2 separate regions of the Homo sapiens genome follow, and region 1 is linked to region 2. Evidence: fine-mapped expression QTL. Tissue or cell type: cerebellar hemisphere. Region 2 holds a variant in brackets; the other region holds the start of a gene. All regions are shown on one strand. Distances are from middle to middle.

Region 1 (5,105 bases), 630 kb before region 2:
ACTTCAGGTCAGAAGTTGAAGACCAGTCTGACCAACATGGTGAAACCTCATCTCTACTACAAATAAAAAAAAATTAGCTGGGCGTGGTGGCCCATGTCTGTAATCCCAGCTACTTGGGAGGCTGAGGCAGGAGAATCTCTTGAACCCAGGAAGCGGAGGTTGCAGTGAGCCCAGATCACACCACTGCACTCCAGCCCAGGCGACAGAGCAAGACTCCGCCTCAAAAAAAAAAAAAAAAAAGTTCTACTCTGGATAAAATGCTGTCAAGCAGCATCACAAGCTACAGAAATCTTTTGTGAAAAGAAGTCAATCAATAAAGCAAAGTTAATCATTGTCTTATTTTAAGAAATTGCCACAGCCATCCCAACCTTCAGCACTCAGCACCCTGATCAGTCAGCCGCCATCAACAGTGAGGCAAGACCCTCCACCAGCAAAAAAAAATTACAACTCCCTGAAGGCTCAGATGATTGACAGCATTTTTTAGCCATAAATTATTTTTTAGATAACGTATGTACATTTCTTAAGCATAATACCATTGTACCCTTAACAGACCACGGTATAGTGTAAACATAACTTTTATATGCACTGGGAAACCAAAAAATTCATGTGACTCGCTTTATTCCAAGATTTAATTTATTGTGGTGGTCTGCAAGCAACCAAAATATCTCCAAGGTATGCCTGTATTTACCGTCCCATAGTTTCAATCCCTAGAGGTCTAACCCTCCACCTGGTTTTATGATCTCTTCATGTCGTATCTCCACAGTTTATCATCTTTTAAACACCGTATAGAAACTTTCTGGCCTATCCACTTCTTTTCTAGGAAAGCCCTGTGTCATTGTAAAAATTAACATAAAATACGTATGCCTTTTCTCCTGTTAATCTGCCTTACAGCCCCAGCTGCAGACCCAGCTAAAGGAAAAAGGATTTTTGTTTTTCCCCCCATCCCCTACACTTGTCTCCTTGCCAGACTGGGAGCTCCTCGTCACTTCCTCATCTTTATAACCCCAGTACCCAAAGGAGAACCTGATGAATTTAGTCATTCAAAGAATGTTTATCCCACAAAGGAGTTTGGAGTTAGGAGATTTAAGATTGAGCCATGCTCTTTGCTACCCACGAGGGTAGAAAAATCGCCTTGTATGTGTGTGGCTGGGCATGGAGGCTCATGTGCGGTGGCTCATGTTACAGTCTCATGCCTGTAACTTTGGGAGGCCCAGGCAGGCAGACCACTTGAGCCCAGGAGCTTGAGACCAGCCTGGCCAACATGGCCAAACCCCACCTCTACAAAAAATACAAAAATTAGCCGGGCGTTGTAGCTCTCGCCTGTAGTCCCAGCTACTCCGGAGGCTGAGGTGGGAGAATCGCTGGAACCTGGGAGCTGAGGCTGCAGTGAGCCGAGATCAGGCCACTGCACTCCAGCCTAGGCAACAGAGTGAGATCCTATCTCAAAAAACAAACAAACAAAAAAAATCACCGGGTTTCAACCCAGTTTCCTTGATAGTTTCCTGCCATCTTCCCCCACCCCTCCGGAAGCACAAACCACAACTATGCCTTTATCTGCATTTCCATGATAAGGTCATGCAGTCCCCAAGAGCTGGAAGCCAGCTGCCTCCCTAAGTGGTCACAGTTCATGCGCCCTGGTGCATAGTCCGGTGCCTGTGAGACTTTTCAGGTTTAAATTTTAGTTAATAATATCCAACAGAGTTACTGTAAAGATTTCGACACTCATGTGACTTAATTTACAGGAAAATTTACCCAACAATCCCATCCACTGAGCAATTCTTTTGATAACATTTACTACGAGGTAAGTGATTCAATTTACCAGAGAATAAGAAAAATGACTTAATAAAGTAGTTAAGATTCTCTTTACAACAGACTAGGAAAGGATAAAATTAAAGGATAGTTCATCAGACCATAACAACCCTTTGGTGCTCAATCAAGACAGAGTTTTGCCAGGAGGGGCATGGCTCACGCCTGTAATCCCCGGACTTTGGGAGGCCAAGACAGGAGGATCGCTTGAGCCCAGGAGTTGGGAGGCTGCAGTGAGACATGATCGTGCCACTGCACTCCACCCTGGGCCACAGAGCGAGACCCTGTCTCAAAAAATAAAAATAAAAAAAAGAGACAGGTAAGTTTTTATCAAAGCTGCCTGAGAGTCACTGGGCACGCCCCACTTGCCAGGTCCTACAGACCAGCAATAACAAGACTAATGCTTTCACCAAACATCAGGAAAATACACAGAAAAGCACCGGGCACTTTTTAAACTGTCATCTTGTTACTGTGACAATACATTTCTGTAGTTAAACAGCACAGTAGGCCTCCAACAAGATGCCCAATTGGGTACATGAAAATCCCGGCCCAAATTAAACACCTGTTTCCAGGAACGCTAGGCTCTTGTCTACATCCCCTACCGTCCCCGGAAGGCAGATAACCCCTCGGGCCTCGTGGGTTAGGTTCGAGTCCCTACAAGTAGGAAGAAGTCGTCAGGGCCCGGCATGTGGTCGCGGCCCAATCTCAATTTAGGGCTGATCCTGACCCTCAAAGCCACCCGGAACGCGCGAGAGGGCGGGACCCGCCATTCTCACAGGGGACCGGGGTGGAACGGCGCCGCGACCCGCCGCCGCGGGCGCCCCTGTCGTGGGGGCGCGGTCTCCCACCGTCCGCGCAGGCTTCGTTAAACCCACCCCGAGTACTCGCCGCCGCCTGGGCTCCGGAGCGGGGAGACGGATGCGAACGGAAAGGAGCGTGGCGGGCGCCCCGCGAGCAGGGAGCCAGGAGCCGCTCGCGCGCCCCTCACCTGAGAGCCGCGGCCACCACAGCCCCACGCGCGGCGCTGGCGCACTCCCGCGGCCCTGAACGGGCTCCCGGCGCCGCGCGCCCGCGCTTCCGGAGGCGGAGAGAGCGGAAAGGGAAAGGAGGGGCGGCGTGGGGCCCGGCGCTTCGGGAGAGGCGGGGGCGCACGCCGGGCCTCGTGCGGCCCTCGCGGCGGGCGTCACAGAGCGCGGCGGGCAGGCGGCCAGGCCGGGGCTCCACGCGGGCGGAGTGGAGGCCGGGCCAGGGACGCGCACACTAGAAGAGCCGCGGAAGAAGGCGGTCCAGCCCGCGTGGTTGCCATGGCGCCCTAGAGGCGTTACTGCTGCTCCCGGCTGCCTAGGGCGGCGCGGGTAGGCCCCGTTGTTCTCGTGCGTTAATAGGGAAAGCTGCCTTGATTATCTTGTAATTCTCTACCAAACCAAGAATAAAAAAGAACGGCGGCTGTGTGTTTGTGATATTTTCTATCAGCAAATTTCAGTTCATACCACTAGTTAGTTCTGTGGACCAGAGGCTGGTTTCAGAATGGAAAGACCTTTGCCGAGTGGTAAACGAGGTGGGTAGTTAAAACAATCTAAGGTAAAAATGATCTCTGCAGAATATATTGAATACAATAACTTCTCGTTGAACTCTCAGGTATGGTAGGATGATGGCACCCCAAAAATGTGCACCTCCTAGTCCCCACAACACGTGAATATGTCACCTTATGTGGCAGACAGGATTTAGCTGATGTGATTAAGGATCAAAATGGGAAGATTAACCAGGATTATCCAGTGAACCCCATGGAATCACAAAGGTCCTTATAAGATGGAGACAAGAAGTTCAAAGTCAGTAGTGGGAGCTGTGAGCACAGAAGCTAGAGGTTGGAGTGATGTCAGAGGCAATGAGCCAAGGAGTGCAGGTAGAAGCTGCAAAAGGAGGAAACGGATTCTCTCCTGAAACCTCAGGAAGGAACTAGAGCCTGCAAATTTTGATTTTAGACTTAATACCTTAAGCACTGTAAGACAATACACCTGTGTTGTTTTAACTACTGAATTTGTAGTAATTTGTTATAGCAGCAATGGTATACAATCCAGTAGTTAATAAATATTGTTCACATCTAAGTGCAAAGAAGGGTAGGAAATATGGGTCTTACCCTGCCTGTCCCGGGGAGTTCCAGTAAGGATTGTCTATTTTCGTCCTTCACAATGCATTTTGTACTTGTTGGTCTTAATTACCAAAAGTATAATCAATTCTCTTTTTGTTGCCTAAAAGACAGCATTGGCTGGGCGCAGTGGCTCACCCCTGTAATCCCAGCACTTCGGGAGGCCGAGGCGGGTGGGGCCCCCTGAGAGGAGTTCAAGACCAGCCTGACTAATATGGTGAAACACTGTCTCTACTAAAAATACAAAAATTAGCTGGGCGTGGTGACGTGAGCCTGTAGTCCCAGCTACTCGGAAGGCTGAGACAGGAGAATCGCTTGAACTCCGGAGGTGGAGGTTGCAGCGAGCCGAGATCGTGCCACTGCACTCCAACCTAGGCAACAGAGTAAGACTGTGTCTCAAAAAAAAAAAAAGCAAGAATTTCACTTTCTTTTAAAGTGCTTAATAAAACTGTGTTGGCACCACTTTCCAGGGATAGTTGTTAAACTGTGGTTGGCCCGGCGCGGTGGCTCACGTTTGTAATTCCGCACTTTGAGAGGCTGAGGTGGGCGGATCACCTGAGGTCAGGAGTTCCAGACCAGCCTGGCCAACATGGTGAAACTCCGTCTCTACTAAAAATACAAAAATTAGCCAGGTGTGGTGGTGCACATCTGTAATCCCAGCTACTCAGGAGGCTGACGCAGAAGAATCGCTTGAACCCAGGAGGGAAATGTTGCAGTAAGCTGAGATCACGCCATTGTACTCCAGCCTGGGCGACAGAGCAAGCCCCTGTCTCTAAATAAATAAACAAACTGTGGTCAAAAGTTTATCTTACAAAGGACTTGAGTAGATATTTCTCCAAAGAAAATATACCAATGGCCAATAAACACATGAAAAGATACTCAACACCACTAATTAGGGAAATGCAAGTCAAAAACACAATGAGATACCGATGGCTTTAGTCAAAAAAATAGAAAATAAGGATTGGCAAGAATGTGGAAAGATCGAAACCCTTATGCATTGCTTGTGAGAATGTAGCATACTCAGCCACTGTGGAAAATAGTATGGCATGTTCTGAAAAACTTGAACATAGAATTATATGACCCAGCAATTTCCCTTCTGGACATACACTAAAAGGAAGTGAAAGCAGGGTCTCAAACAGATACTTATGCACCC
Region 2 (5,200 bases):
TTGTCAACAGAACATTAGAATGTGCTTACGTAAGTAAAAATTCCAGTGACAATTCATTTGCGCACTGTTCAAAAAAGGTGATCACGATGGAAAGATTTTAAATTTTGTTGTTTGTATTTTTGCCAATTTTGAAAGGATTTTTTTTTTTTTTTTTTTTTGCACCAGCAGTGTTCAGCTATTGGGGACTAAGTATTAGGAAACCTTTAGCCAGTTTATCTCCTCTCAGCAACCAACATGATGGGACTGGAGCCAACACTCATAGTTTTGAAAACCTCCCTTGAAGGTGGGAGACTTACTTTCCCAAGATGAGGAGTGTCTGAGGAGGCTCAACCCGGCCTGTTTCCCTGAAGAAGTCCCATAAACCGTCTATTACAGATGTGAAGGAGAATATCAAGCCTGTTGACATGATAATCCAGCTTATTGCTGCTCTTCTTGTTCCCAAAATAGTGAATGTAAATATTCATTTATTATTAAATATCACTTATTATTAAATAAGTGAATATTCACTTAATAAATATTATTATTTATAATAATATTGCTGGGGAACCCAAATACGAATGTAATAAACGATGACCCAGAGCTCCAGTGTGGTGCTGATTAAAAGGTTTAGGTGAAGAGCTACAGATGTCTACTTGGGACTCAGATCAAGAACCGATTTCTCATTTGCTTAAAAAAGAAGAATCATGGAGCGTTTTACAGAAGCAGTTGGGAAGTGAATGTGTGAGCATCATACTGACCTGCTGAGGCTAACTGAAAGCTTTCCCTGTCACACTGTCTCACTGTACCCTTCCACACGGCTTTACTTTCTGCTCAAAGCAGCAGCTACTCTGCCATTGCTCTCATCAGAGTAGACAGATAAAAGGTCAGTTTATAGGAGAGGTCAGGTGGGACACAGACAAAGACAATAGTGATTAGAAGGACAAACAGCAGAAAAGTCTTTCATAATAGTTTAGTAAAAGCAATTTAAATAACAACAAACAATATTTACTAAGTGATTATAATGTACACACCACCAAGTGCTTTAGGGAAATCGCTCATTTCTTTTTCACAATGAACCTATGAATTGGGCATGAATTTTATCCCCGTGTCACACCGAGCCTCAGAAAGTTTCATAATTTGCCAAGGTCACACAAATAGAAAGTGGCGGGGTCTCTATTCAAACCCAGCTCATGAGGCACCAGAGCTTGACACTACACTGTGTAACTATAATGTCAGTCACACCCAAGGATCAAATACCTCTTGTCCACATTATTTATAGAAAAATGTTCTTTTGAATTTTAACACTTAAAAGTGTAGAGACAAAGAAATTATGCGAGAACTTGGAGTGTAACAAAAGGTGCATTTTTGCTAAAAACTGGCTCTGTGATCTAGGGAGAGTCACCCATGACCTCTTGACTCCAGAGTCCTCAGTTCACAAAGATAGCTAAGCTGCCTCGAATTCTAAAGTTGTATGGTGTTTCTGTTCACACAGCACTTGAACATCTACTTACTGCCCTTCACTTATGGATATTTAATTATGAGTGAAGGGTTTTGAAGAGAGACTTTATATTATTCACATTATACCTCTTGCCTCTGCATAGGACCTCACATTCAGTTCTAATCTTTATACGCACCAGAAACAAAATTACATAAATCTAAGTAAACTTGCTCCTATCAAATGTGCTCCGGAAAATTGCCAAGTTTATATGGATTTTTAAATTTTACATCAAACAGATCCTATCAACTATTTGTCCCTAGAAAAAAAAAAGATGAAAGGCCAGAACTGCCTACAAGTTGCAATGTCATTGACTTTCCAGCAAGCATTGCAGCTGTCCTGGGAAAACTGAACCTGAAATATGTTTTTGAAACTGCTGAATTTCAGCTTCTAGTGTTTTTCACATTTTAGAAACAGGGAAACTATTAGCTTTAAAATGCTTGTATTTAATAGTTTTTTTCTTAAGCATTTCAAAAACCCCAGGTGAAAAGCTAAGTATGAGAAAGGTTCTCATGCAATCGTTAATCAAATGCAACTAGGTTGGAAGAAGATACATGCTTATTGCTTTGCGGAAGTGGCTTTTGTTCTAACTGAATAGGTTGAGGTAGATTATTCCTATTTAAACTTAGAAACGGAACCTCTAATACAATTGTTAACATTCCTGCAGTGAGGTCGTTTCATACAAATGTAACTGTGACAGGCTGAGATATTCCTTTTGCAAAGCCTATAATCTCTATGTAGTTAATCAGCATAAAGTATTAAAATCATAAATATGAAAAGAATCTCAAAAGAAAAATGATTTAAATTACTCTAAGACTATACAGACTATCCCCAAAGGCATAATTTCTTTAATAGAAAAAAAAAAAACCCACATTGCTTTGAGAACAAAAAAGATTCTGGATTCTTTTGTAGGGCTGCTTGGGCCAGTCCCACCTCTTCCACTTGAAGTTTTTTGTTTGTTTGCTTTTCTTTGAATGTGGAGAAAGTCTCTAGCAGCCTTCCATTTCCTCTGGTCTGAAAGTCTGTGTCCCTACTGAAGTTCTACAGCTTCTTTTATAACATTTCCCATTTGACACTAATTCCAACAGATGATGCTTTTCTAAGTTTGTGTTGTTTATAATTTACAGCACCTGGTTGTAGCCAGAGTCCCTTGCATCTCCCCAGCAGGGTGTGCGGGACCCATACTACCTGCACCCAGGCCTGGCTGGCCCCGCCCACAGGCCTTAGCTTCCTGCCCAGCTTCCCGGCTGCAGTGGGCCTAGCTATAACTTGCTCTGTTCCCATGGCTGTGAAGCCATGGCCGCAGCCTCTGCCATCTCATCTCCTC[A/G]CGCTGTGGGTTGCCTCTAGCTCCCCTGGGGGCTTGGGCAGGCCACCATCATGCCAGGGGCGTCAGAACCCTGGAAATTCTCCACCCTCCTCAACTCACGGATGCGCTGGTTGCCCCAAGGGCTGTCTGGGGGGCTCACGGAGGAGAGCCTGGAGGAGAGGGGGAATTGACACTGGCCCTCAGAGAGGACACAGAGGGCAGAGCCAGCAGATTCGAGATGCAGTAGTTCCATTAGGGCCTCACTCCCATGTGACACAACAGCCGCCCAAAAGCTCTTGAGAAACTAAGGGCAGCTCAGTGATGTGTCACCTTGCATTTGCTTTGCCTTTTTTCCTGCCTTGTCTTCAGTCTCCTTTCACTCTTGCATCCTGGGATGGCATGTCCGCTATCTCCTCGCATACAGTATTAGCATGTAAGCTTTGCCTCTGCCTCGGGCTCTCTGTCCTAGGGAAACCAGTTAAGTCCTAGTTAAGTAACAGTAACAATCCAGATTTCACTCTCACCACTTTGACATGGAACCTCCTGTCTCTGATAGCAGCCAAGAGGGTCAGAATCACCAGAAGGTATCACGTATGCTCACAAAGACGTGTGCTCAGCCACCACAGGGTTCTCACGGTGTTTATTTCTATGTTGTTTCTTTGTCCTTCCAGCAGGCACCGCTGCTTTCCATGGGGCATAAACTGGACATCTCTTTCTCACCCTGCCTTTGAGGCACTGACTCTTCAAGGCCCCAACACTGCACGATGTTATTTTGCAAGGAAGGGGAGAACACTGCTCTTTCTCATAACATGCAGTCTGTCCTCAGAAAGATCCAGTAACGGTGGGACTTATGCTCCCCATTGTGAAAAAGAATTTTAAACTTGCAGAGGGGAGCTAAGTCAGAAGACAAATGCAAATGGCAAACACTCGGGGTAACTTGGATACAAGCCTCTGACTTAACCTCAGCCGCTGGCTTGGAGCAGAGAAAGAGGGCATGGAGAAGATGAGTAAGATTCTAAGAATTTCCAAATGAGTCATTAGACCAGGACTGAAACAGTTTGAGAACACTGCGCTGGGATTCCTCAGGCTATTTTACCCAGGACTCATTTCCTTACTGCAGTTCTGAAGACAATGACCCTGGCCCCAGGGGTCGGTCCAGTAGGAGGGCTGCAAGGGATCTTTTCTGCTGCATTTACAACATCCACGTATTCTGCAGTCAGAGTTCCCAAGAACAAGCCGGAGCACACTGAGCGCTCCCTAGGGAGGAGGCCTGGGGAGAGCTTAAGAGAGGAATGTACTCCAAGCTTTATGTGCTTGTAATTTGTTTATAGTGCTGTAAAGAGTTGTTTTTCGATGGGACTGTCTTCTGAGTCCTGTACAATAAAGGACATACGTATAAAACTCTAAAATGTAAATTAAAAGCTGAACCACCATAAAATAAAGGCAGTTTGTACAAACTGAAATATTCAGTGCTTTGGGTCTGGGTGAGGTGGAACAAGAAACCCTAGGTAAATTGTAGCAGCGTTAGATGTTTGGCCTGTTTAAAGAAGGATCCTTAGAGGGATGGAGTCATAAACACAGGGCACACTGGCCTCAGAACAGAACTGAGAGGGCTCCAGTAAGCAGAGTGGAGACATAAAGCATCCTGCCATGTGCTTACGATGTAGGATATCGTCAGCCTCTCAGCATGAGTCTTACCCTGTGGAAGAAAGAAGTGGAAAGAGAGGAGAGGAGCATCTCTGAGCAGCACAGCTCCACGCAGAGTTTCACCCCAGTGCTTCTCTGTGAGGTGTAAATACAGCTCTACAGCCTGGGAGGACTGGCAGAGGTCACCAGTAGCAAAGAGTGATAGCGAGATTCCACGGTCATTTGTGGATGAACAGGGGTTGTTCATTTTAAGAATATTGTTTGGGTAAACAAACAAAAGTCAATTTTCCCGTGTTATGGAAATGCTCTGAGAAAGGCAACCTCACACAAATGGGTCAAAGAGAATGCCAAGGTATGGAATGCCTGCTTGTTTGCAGACCAAAAATATCTCTCATTCATACAAGATAGAATCTAGCTGGATTTTGGTGTGGTTCTTTCATAAGCATCTCTCTTGTGTGGCCGACTGCTCCTATTCAGATGAATAACTATGCTAGTATCTTGCATAGCTGATCCATGACCCTGCTACTAATTTCCTCTAAACCTGTCTGTAGAATATCTGAGTGGTTCAAAACCCTTTTAGTTCCATTCCAATCTTCTTCTTCTATCAAATCCAACTAGGCAGGAGGAAACAAGATGTGTGACTCTTGGAAAAAAAAATACCAGCGATGATCTCTGAGACCTGTGAAGTACTGGCCCTCTTTCAAATACAATTCGATTTCTTTCTCACACCCAGCCTTTAAAAAATAATTAGGGGGATCTAATGCACATTGTAC

Evidence for each region. PIP is the estimated chance that this variant, and not a neighbour inherited with it, causes the effect.
Region 1: CFAP97 starts here. The variant in region 2 is fine-mapped to the expression of CFAP97 in cerebellar hemisphere (GTEx, PIP 0.98).

The regions. Positions count from the first base shown.
Region 1 is chr4:185,201,104-185,206,208 of GRCh38, forward strand. CFAP97 (cilia and flagella associated protein 97) reads right to left here and starts at 2,897. Exons shown (of 5, transcript NM_020827.3): 1 at 2,795-2,897. It also overlaps a transcript of SNX25 not described here. RefSeq lists silencers at 2,430-3,199, 2,809-2,980 and enhancers at 3,740-3,849, 3,960-4,049.
Region 2 is chr4:185,835,516-185,840,715 of GRCh38, forward strand. It overlaps a transcript of SORBS2 not described here. Among named protein-coding and RNA genes, the nearest start is that of SORBS2, 26 kb to the left of the region's middle. RefSeq lists enhancers at 3,401-4,600, 3,657-4,328. The variant A/G (reference allele first, on the strand shown) is at 2,802.